2 linked regions of the Homo sapiens genome follow. The protein of the gene in region 2 purifies or fractionates together with the protein of the main gene of each other region. This does not show direct contact. Each region holds a gene or a part of one and is shown on either strand. Other genes may lie near its edges.

Region 1 (2,777 bases), on a different chromosome or scaffold from region 2:
AAAATTGGATGGGCATGGTGGCCCATGCCTATAATCCAGCACTTTGGGAGGCCAAGGCAGGCGGATCACCTGAGGTCAGGAGTTTGACACCAGCCTGGCCAACAGGGCAAAATCCCGTGTCTACTAAAAATACAAAAATTAGCCGGGTATGGTGGCGGGCACCTGTAATCCCAGCTACTGAGGAGGCTGAGGCAGGAGAATCACTGGGACCCAGGAGGTGGAGGTTGCAGTGAGAAGATATCACTCCACTGCACTCCAGCCTGGGTGACAGCACAAGACTCTGTCTCAAAAAAAGAAAAAAAGACAAGATCATACAAATTCTAGGCCTTACAGGTTACACGACCTCTGTCACACCTACCCCACTCTGCTGTCGGATAGCAAAATCAATCTGCAAATGAAGGGGTGTGGTGGCTGTGTTCAGACAAGATCTTACAAAATTAGGTGGCTAGTCCAGCAGCTGTGCTAACCCCTGAAGGAGAAGAAGAGACACCCACAGTAGGAAATCCCAGTCAGAACTGACTGCAGTGGTCTCCCCCAACAGAGACGGTGGGGGTCTGAGCCAGAGGCAGCAGGGAAAGCACAGCACAAGAACGCACAGGCCCAACAGAGAAATGCCACAAGATTTAGTAACCAACTATTGATAAAGCTGAAAGAGGACAGCAAGGTTTCTTTTGTGTCAGTGGAAGGTGGGGACAGATTTTGTGTCTGAGGCAAACCCAGGCCAAAATTACTAGGCTTCCCGGAAAAGAAATAAAGACGTTGCTGCTTTTTGTTTTGTTTTGTTTTGTTTTGTTTTTGAGACGGAGTCTTGCTGTGTCGCCCAGGCTGGAGTGCAGTGGCGTGATCTTGGCTCACTGCAAGCTCCGCCTCCTGGGTTCATGCCATTCTCCCGCCTCAGCCTCCCGAGTAGCTGGGACTACAGGCGCCCGCCACCACACCCGGCTAATTTTGTTTTTGTATTTTTAGTAGAGACCGGGTTTCACCATGTTAGCTAGGATGGTCTCGATCTCCTGACCTCGTGATCTGTCCACCTCGGCCTGCCAAAGTGCTGGGATTACAGGTGTGGGTCACCGTGCCCGGCCTTTTAATTTTTTTGAGACAGGGTCTTGCTCTGTCACCCAAGGAGTGGTAGGATCTCAGCTCATTGGAACCTCTGCCCTCCAGGCTCAAGCAATCCTCCCACCTCAGCCTCCTGAGTAGCTGGGACCACAGGTGCATGACACCATGCCCAGCTAATTTTTTTGTATTTTTGGTAGAGACAGGGTCTTGCCATACTGCCCAGGCTGGTCTCAAACTCAGTTCAAGAAATCCACCTTGGCCTCCCAAAGAGCTGGGATAATGGGTGTGAGCCACTGCACCTGTTGCTGTTTTCATCACAAACAACTCATTCTTTTTTTAAATCAAACCCTACATGAGACAGTGGAACGAATGATGTTGTGAAGCAGTTTATAGTAATGCCCAAGTTAAAATAAAATATATACACCACCTACAAGATTCCCCAAAATGCCCATAAAATTACTAAGTTCAACCTACCTTTTCCACATGAATTCTACCACCCAAGAAAGGGGCACAAAAATCCTTTAGAAAATACCTTATTCTTAAAAAAAAAAAAAAATGCTGGGCATGCTGCCTCATGACTGTAATCCTAGCACTTTGGGAGGCTGGGGTGGGTGGATCGATTGGGCCCAGGAGTTTGAGGCCAGCCTGGGCAACATATGTTGTCTGGAACTGTCACCCTGCCTGGCACAGAGAAGGGCTTAGTGACATTTGTGGGGTGAACTGAGAATTCTCCTGTTCACCTACAGGGTGTCTTCTTTTTGAGGAAAAGCAGCCACCATTTCCAGGTTTGATATAAGCTTCATGGACTGTTTCTTCCTCTTCTCCGGCAGGTGGGCATTAACTACCAGCCCCCCACGGTGGTCCCTGGGGGAGACCTGGCCAAGGTGCAGCGGGCTGTGTGCATGCTGAGCAACACCACGGCCATCGCGGAGGCCTGGGCTCGCCTGGACCATAAGTTCGATCTCATGTATGCCAAGCGGGCCTTTGTGCACTGGTACGTGGGAGAAGGCATGGAGGAGGGGGAGTTCTCTGAGGCCCGCGAGGACCTGGCAGCTCTGGAGAAGGATTATGAAGAGGTGGGCGTGGATTCCGTGGAAGCCGAGGCTGAAGAAGGTGAAGAATACTGAGGGGAGGGTGTGGTGGGTTCTCCACTCCACTGCCACCCCCAGCGTGGCTGCTTTCAAGTTCTTTGCAATTAAAGGTTCTGTATAAAACCAAGACCTCTGTGTATCGTACTGCCTAGCTTTGCCTGCAGGAGCAGGTGGGACCCCCAGAGCCTGCATGGACAGTGGTGGGGTGCCAGCCTGCCCTGCTAGCATGGAGTTGGGTGCAGCGGGATGGTACATACTTAAGGAGCTGCCACAGAAGTAACTTGACACGGAGAAATAGATTTCCTAAATTCTAGGAAAGCACAGTCAGGGTTTTCAACTGAATTTGCAACTTTGGGGGCTTTTCTATTGATGGGTGATGCGAGCTACAAAGAAGAGTCTAGACATGGAGTGTTTAAATCTGAGGTCTGTGGATGGGGCTTGTCCATGAAATCCCTAAAGCTGTGGGTCAAATGTGTAAGGTCAGGACATTTTAGAAGGGAAAGAGTGTTACTGTGTTCTGCACAGCATTCGTGACCCATAGAAGGTTACAACACACCCAGCCTTCCACAGTAACCTGGAAGACAGCATTTGCCCTCCGTGCACACACACGGCCACTCTGCCCCTCAG
Region 2 (5,397 bases):
GCCTCCCAAAGTGCTAGGATTACAGGCGTGAGCTACCATGCCCAGCCGGAAGCACAGTTTTTGAGAAATAGGAAGCAGGAGTCTGGCACTGTGTGTGTATTCTGGCCTACTATCATGCCTATTCTGCATCCCTTTGGAAACCTGGGTTACTACTAGTGCCAGGACACTTTCTAAAACTAGAAGTGCTTTGATTCTCACTGCTCAGCGCGGCATGTGTGGTGCCCAGTGTAGCACCGTGGGTGTTCTTAGACCTTGGTGGGATTGGTGGGGTGTGGTCTTCAGATAGTAGTTGGTACTCAAAATATGTTTTGATTCTGATTTTTTTTTTTTTTTTGAGACGGAATTTTGCTCTTGTTCCGCAGGCTAGAGTGCAGTGGCGCGATCTCAGCTTACTGAAACCTCCGCCTCCCGGTTCAAGCAGTTCTCCTGCCTCAGCCTCCCAAATAGCTGGGATCACAGGCATGTGCCACCACGCCCAGCTAATTTTGTATTTTTAGTAGAGATGGGGTTTCACCATGTTGGTCAGCCTGGTCTCGAACTTCTGAGGTCAAATGATCCACCTGCCTCAGCCTCCCAAAGTGCTGGGATTACAGGTGTGAGCCACCATGCCCAGTCTTCATTTTTTAATTTTCTTAGTCGTATTGTGTTCTGGCCTGGAACCTTCTCAAACTACACAGAACTGTAGACATATTGGTTGGAACTCTTGAAATTTTTATTGGCTGGGCACAGTGGTTCACGCCTGTAATCCCAGCACTTTGGGAGACTAAGGTGGGCTGATCCCTTGAGCCTAGGAGTTCAAGACCAGCCTGGGCAACATGGAAAAACCGTGTCTCTACTTTAAAGAAAAAAGAAATTAGTCTGGCATAGTGTCACACGGCCTGTAGGCCTAGCTCCCTGGGAGGCTGAGCCTGGAAGATTGAGGCTGCAGTGAGCTATGATTGTGCCACTGCAGTGTAGCCTGGGTGACAGAGTAAGACCCTGTCTCAAAAACAGAAAAACTAAAATTTCTATTTCAAGGAATATAGTTTTGAAGAATAAGAGAAAGAGGAGTCATGCTAGGTACTGGCACCTGGCCGTTTTCAAGTCAGTCAGTGATTTGTTTTTTGTGACCTTAGCTACATCATCTCCCCTCTCGTGAGCTCAGTTTCTTTTTGCCAGCAAAGGAAAGTAATACCAGTTTTTCTTTAGGGGGCATGAATAACATTGTGTGAGTAAATGTGATACGTATAAGTTCTTTCACAGTCATGAAGTAGGATAGCCTCTGTTGGATGGGGATACAGTGACAAGGGGCTCTGACCAAGGGACTAATGTGCTAGACACTAAGTCTTGACTGCCAGTCCCCAGCCATGTGATCAGGTGCCAGAGGAGACCAGGAACTCTTCAGTTCCCCTTCTCCATTGCTTAGCTTTTTCTGAGTAATTCCTGAGTGTGACATGTTCTCTCATTTTTTCTTCAGGTAGAATGGAAGAATCTCACTTCAATTCTAACCCGTACTTCTGGCCTTCTATCCCCACAGTCTCAGGTCAGGTAAGTGGTGTTGCTTTCTTGCTCTCTCCAAGTCTCAGTAGTAAGTTCTGTTACTATGGAGACTGAAGGTACACCACATGCTGTTTTACTGGGTCCCCCACCCCTGAGAATTATCTAGTGTTTCTGCCTGGGCTTCTCTCTAGAAGGCCAGAGGTATGAAGTGCTCATCCTTGATCCCTAAGGAGGACAGACACTGAAGTGTGCTCACGAGCAAGCAGAATCAGCCTCTCAGGCTGAAGAGGGTGCTCCCGTCCCCTTCCTTTTCTCTTAGATCGAGAACACAATGTTCATCAACAAGATGAAGGATCAGCTGTTGCCAGAGAAGGGCTGTGGTCTGGCCCCACCTCACTACCCCACCTTGCTGACAGTGCCTGCCTCAGTGTCCCTGCCCTCAGGCATCAGTATGGACACAGAGTCCAAGTCAGACCAGCTGACCCCACACAGCCAAGCGTCCGTTACCCAGAATATCACGGTGGTCCCTGTGCCGTCTACAGGACTGATGACTGCTGGTGAGCAACTCTGCTCTTCTCCAATCTGAGGTGTTGATCTTCCATGATCAGTACCCCAGGCTGGAGGGCTCCAAGGACATGGGGAGTGGGATATGTGTTTGATTATTCAATCAAATTTTTATTAAGTGCCTACTGTGTGCCTAGCAATGTGCTAGGCATTGTGGGGGATACAAAGAAGTAGAAGATGCGGTCCCTGCCTTTGAGGAGGTGACATTCTTTCCTTCTCTGAATCAAGGAGTCTCCTGTTCTCAGAGGTGGAGAAGAGAAGGGAGTCAATCAAGGGGTAAATCTCACTGTTACCAGGGGGGTGGGGACAAGGGTTAGGAGACCATTATTTTTCTACAGGGTTTGGGATTTCCTGTGTACTCTGGGTTGGGTCGGCGGGGGGGTGAGGGGTTAATTAGACAATGATCTGGGGGAAATGAAATAGGATTAGGATCAGGACTGAACAACATGACGCCATCTCCTTTTTCTCCCAATCCTAGGTCCGGGTTTGGTAATCACGTCCCCCTCAGGCTCTCTTGTGACCACAGCATCATCAGCTCAGACCTTCCCCATTTCGGCTCCCATGATTGTCTCAGCTCTTCCCCCTGGCTCACAAGCCCTGCAGGTTGTCCCTGACCTCTCCAAGAAGGTAGCATCGACCCTAACCGAGGAAGGAGGCGGAGGTGGTGGTGGAGGTGGCAGTGTGGCTCCTAAGCCACCCCGGGGCCGGAAGAAGAAGCGGATGCTGGAATCAGGGCTGCCCGAGATGAATGACCCTTATGTCCTCTCCCCTGAGGATGATGATGACCATCAGAAAGACGGCAAGACCTACAGGTAAGACTCAGAGCCAGGGGCAGGATGGGGCGAGGATCCCTGGCTTGGTGATTCTCCCTGTACCCTCATTGTGTTCTGCCCCGGTCAGGCGCTACACTCTGACAGCTTCCCAGCTCTGAGCCACTTGCATGTCAGGTGTCCCATCATAGGATAGGAGGCAGAGCTGCTAGCATCGTGTTAGGATGCAAAGACCCATTTCACCCTTTCCTTTTTTTAACCCTTGTTTTGGGGGTCGTTAACACTGACTAATTTTTTAGTAACAGAGTAGAATTTCTCTCTTGTAATAAGGCTTTATGCTGGGTTTGAGACTCTTGGCTGCAGCTCCTTTTTGCTTTCTACATATTCCATTCCTATTTTTCTAAGAAACCTTTCTAGTAAGCACCTAACCTATGTGCCATCCACCAGTTCCTGGGTCGCATTTGAACACTGAGCCTGCCTTACCCTGCATGGTTGGGATGATGGGAGGGGCCTTCATAAGAAGGTAGGAGGAATAGGATGCCTCCCCCTTTGGAATATGTACTTAAAGAATGACTTTGCTCACTTTCTAATTTATGAAAGTCATTTTGATTCTCCACTTCCTCTAAGTTCCCCTTTACCAAAAAGCATTATATGCGTATTTGCATGTGATACTCTACAAAAATAATTACATAAGTAAACTCCCTGCCCTTTGAAAGTTGAACATCTTTTAATCCCTTTGAGAACTGTCACGTGCCCTAGTGGGTTTGGGGAGTTTGGTAGCACTGTATAGAGTGGGATAACTACTGTCACAGCTTTGATATAGACAGGGGCAGATGTGCATGGCTGGGAGTCTGGGTCTGTCCTTAGTTCCTTAGTGTACCCAGATGGGCAATGTTGTTCCCATTTTAGGAGCGAAGGGAACTGCGGCACAGGAAATGGACAGAGCCTTGGGCTCATGGATTCAGTTCCCGGCTCCACCACGAATTTGCTGTGTGACCCTGGGCAAGTCCTTTTCCCCTCTCTGGGCCTCAGTTTCCTCATCTGTAAAATGGGGATAATTCTGTTTATGCCTCCCGTTTGTTGGGAGTATATATCAGATAAGATTTGAAATGTTGGGAACTTCAAAAGAAAGTTAAGAAATTAGTTATTTAGCATTTATTTTTATTTGTGTTGTATAGTTCTACTATGGAGAGTAGCCTACAGAGTGTTTAAACCGCTCTTTATAAATGAAAATGAGAGGAGTGTTGCTATGCAGAATTGAGCACTGCAGAATTCCAGCTCATAATCCAAAAGTTCATTGCAGCTTTATTATTACAGGTGTACCCCACTTTATACAATAAAAGTGTTCCTGGAAAATGTTTCCATCATATCATATTATAAAGGTACCTGACAAGTTTGATTCATTTAAAGGCATTCTCTTATATATCAGTTCATAAAATTAAAATCCCTTTTAAGTTATCGTATAGAAATCTAGATTTTTATGTGTTTGTTTAAAATGAGGCCATTGTGAGATGGAGATACATCTATATACAATTTGTGGAAGTAGTAGAAGGATCCTTTAACACTCTATAGAGCCCTTCTAATGGATCAGGGTCCTCTCATTCTGCCCTTTCTTCACTGTGACCCACATTAAAGCTATCTCTGGACTTTCCAAACTGTATATATTAAAAGAAATGCACATATACAGTTGGAAGAAAGCCTCATGGGGCTTTTCACACATTCAGTATTTTTGGAATTCCTGAATGACCATCCACCCAGGAGACTACAAAGAACTTTGAAATTGAAGGGAGACTTATTGTATCCTAGGTAAACAGAATTTCTTCAGAAACTCAGAACTCTTGACATTCCAAAGAAATTTTTTTTTTTTTGAGACGGAGTCTCGCTCTGTCGCCCAGGCTGGTGTGCAGTGGCACAATCTCAACTCACTCTTAACTTCTGCCACCCAGGTTCAAGCGATTCTCGTGCCTCAGCCTCCCGAGTAGCTGGGACTATAGGTGCGCCACCACGCCCAGCTAATTCTTTTGTATTTTTAGTAGAGACAGGGTTTCACCACGTTGGCCAGGCTGGTCTCGAACTCCTGACCTCAGGTGATCTGCCTGCCTCGGCCTCCCAGAGTGCTGGGATTACAGGTGTGAGCCACTGTGCCTGGCAAAAGAAATCTTTTTATCACAGTGAATTTCTGTTTTGATGCATGTGTGGGTCAGCCATACCCTCTTCAGTGGTCAGTAGCATTTGACTGGCTATTGGGGCAGTTGGGTTCTGTTACTCTGGTCAAGTCAACGTATCTCCCACTCTTTGTTCCCATATATAAAATGGGAAGATCAGCCATGCCTTCATCTGTCTTGTAGAAATGTTTTGAGGCAAAGTCAGAATATTTGAAATTGTTTTGAGCATTTTAGGAAAAATGGATAATAATTCAAAGTGGCCATACTTGTAATTATTATAATCAAGGCCATTGCATTGCATGCTTCCAAGGGGTCCCGTTCTCATTGTGTTGGATGTGAATGGTGCCCCTGGAGGAAGGCACCCCATGATATGGATGCTGGCTTTTCTATCCCCTGCTGACTGCCACGACTCTCCAAAA

Evidence for each region. The genes of interacting proteins can lie anywhere in the genome.
Region 1: the proteins of ZNF384 (region 2) and TUBA3C purify together in Homo sapiens (affinity purification with mass spectrometry, with the first as the bait; 3 studies listed by BioGRID). This does not show direct contact.

Annotation. Positions count from the first base shown.
Region 1 is NC_000013.11:19,173,272-19,176,048, reverse strand, and holds the end of TUBA3C (tubulin alpha-3C chain), read left to right. Parts: intron 1-1,889; coding exon 1,890-2,186; 3' UTR 2,187-2,277; downstream 2,278-2,777. UniProt on the Homo sapiens protein: Tubulin is the major constituent of microtubules, a cylinder consisting of laterally associated linear protofilaments composed of alpha- and beta-tubulin heterodimers.
Region 2 is NC_000012.12:6,675,585-6,680,981, reverse strand, and holds part of ZNF384 (zinc finger protein 384), read left to right. Parts: intron 1-362; exon of another isoform or gene 363-459; intron 460-1,456; 5' UTR 1,457-1,461; coding exon 1,462-1,527; intron 1,528-1,798; coding exon 1,799-2,036; intron 2,037-2,271; coding exon 2,272-2,319; intron 2,320-2,521; coding exon 2,522-2,855; intron 2,856-3,722; coding exon 3,723-3,815; intron 3,816-4,130; exon of another isoform or gene 4,131-4,195; intron 4,196-5,397. UniProt on the Homo sapiens protein: Transcription factor that binds the consensus DNA sequence [GC]AAAAA. Seems to bind and regulate the promoters of MMP1, MMP3, MMP7 and COL1A1.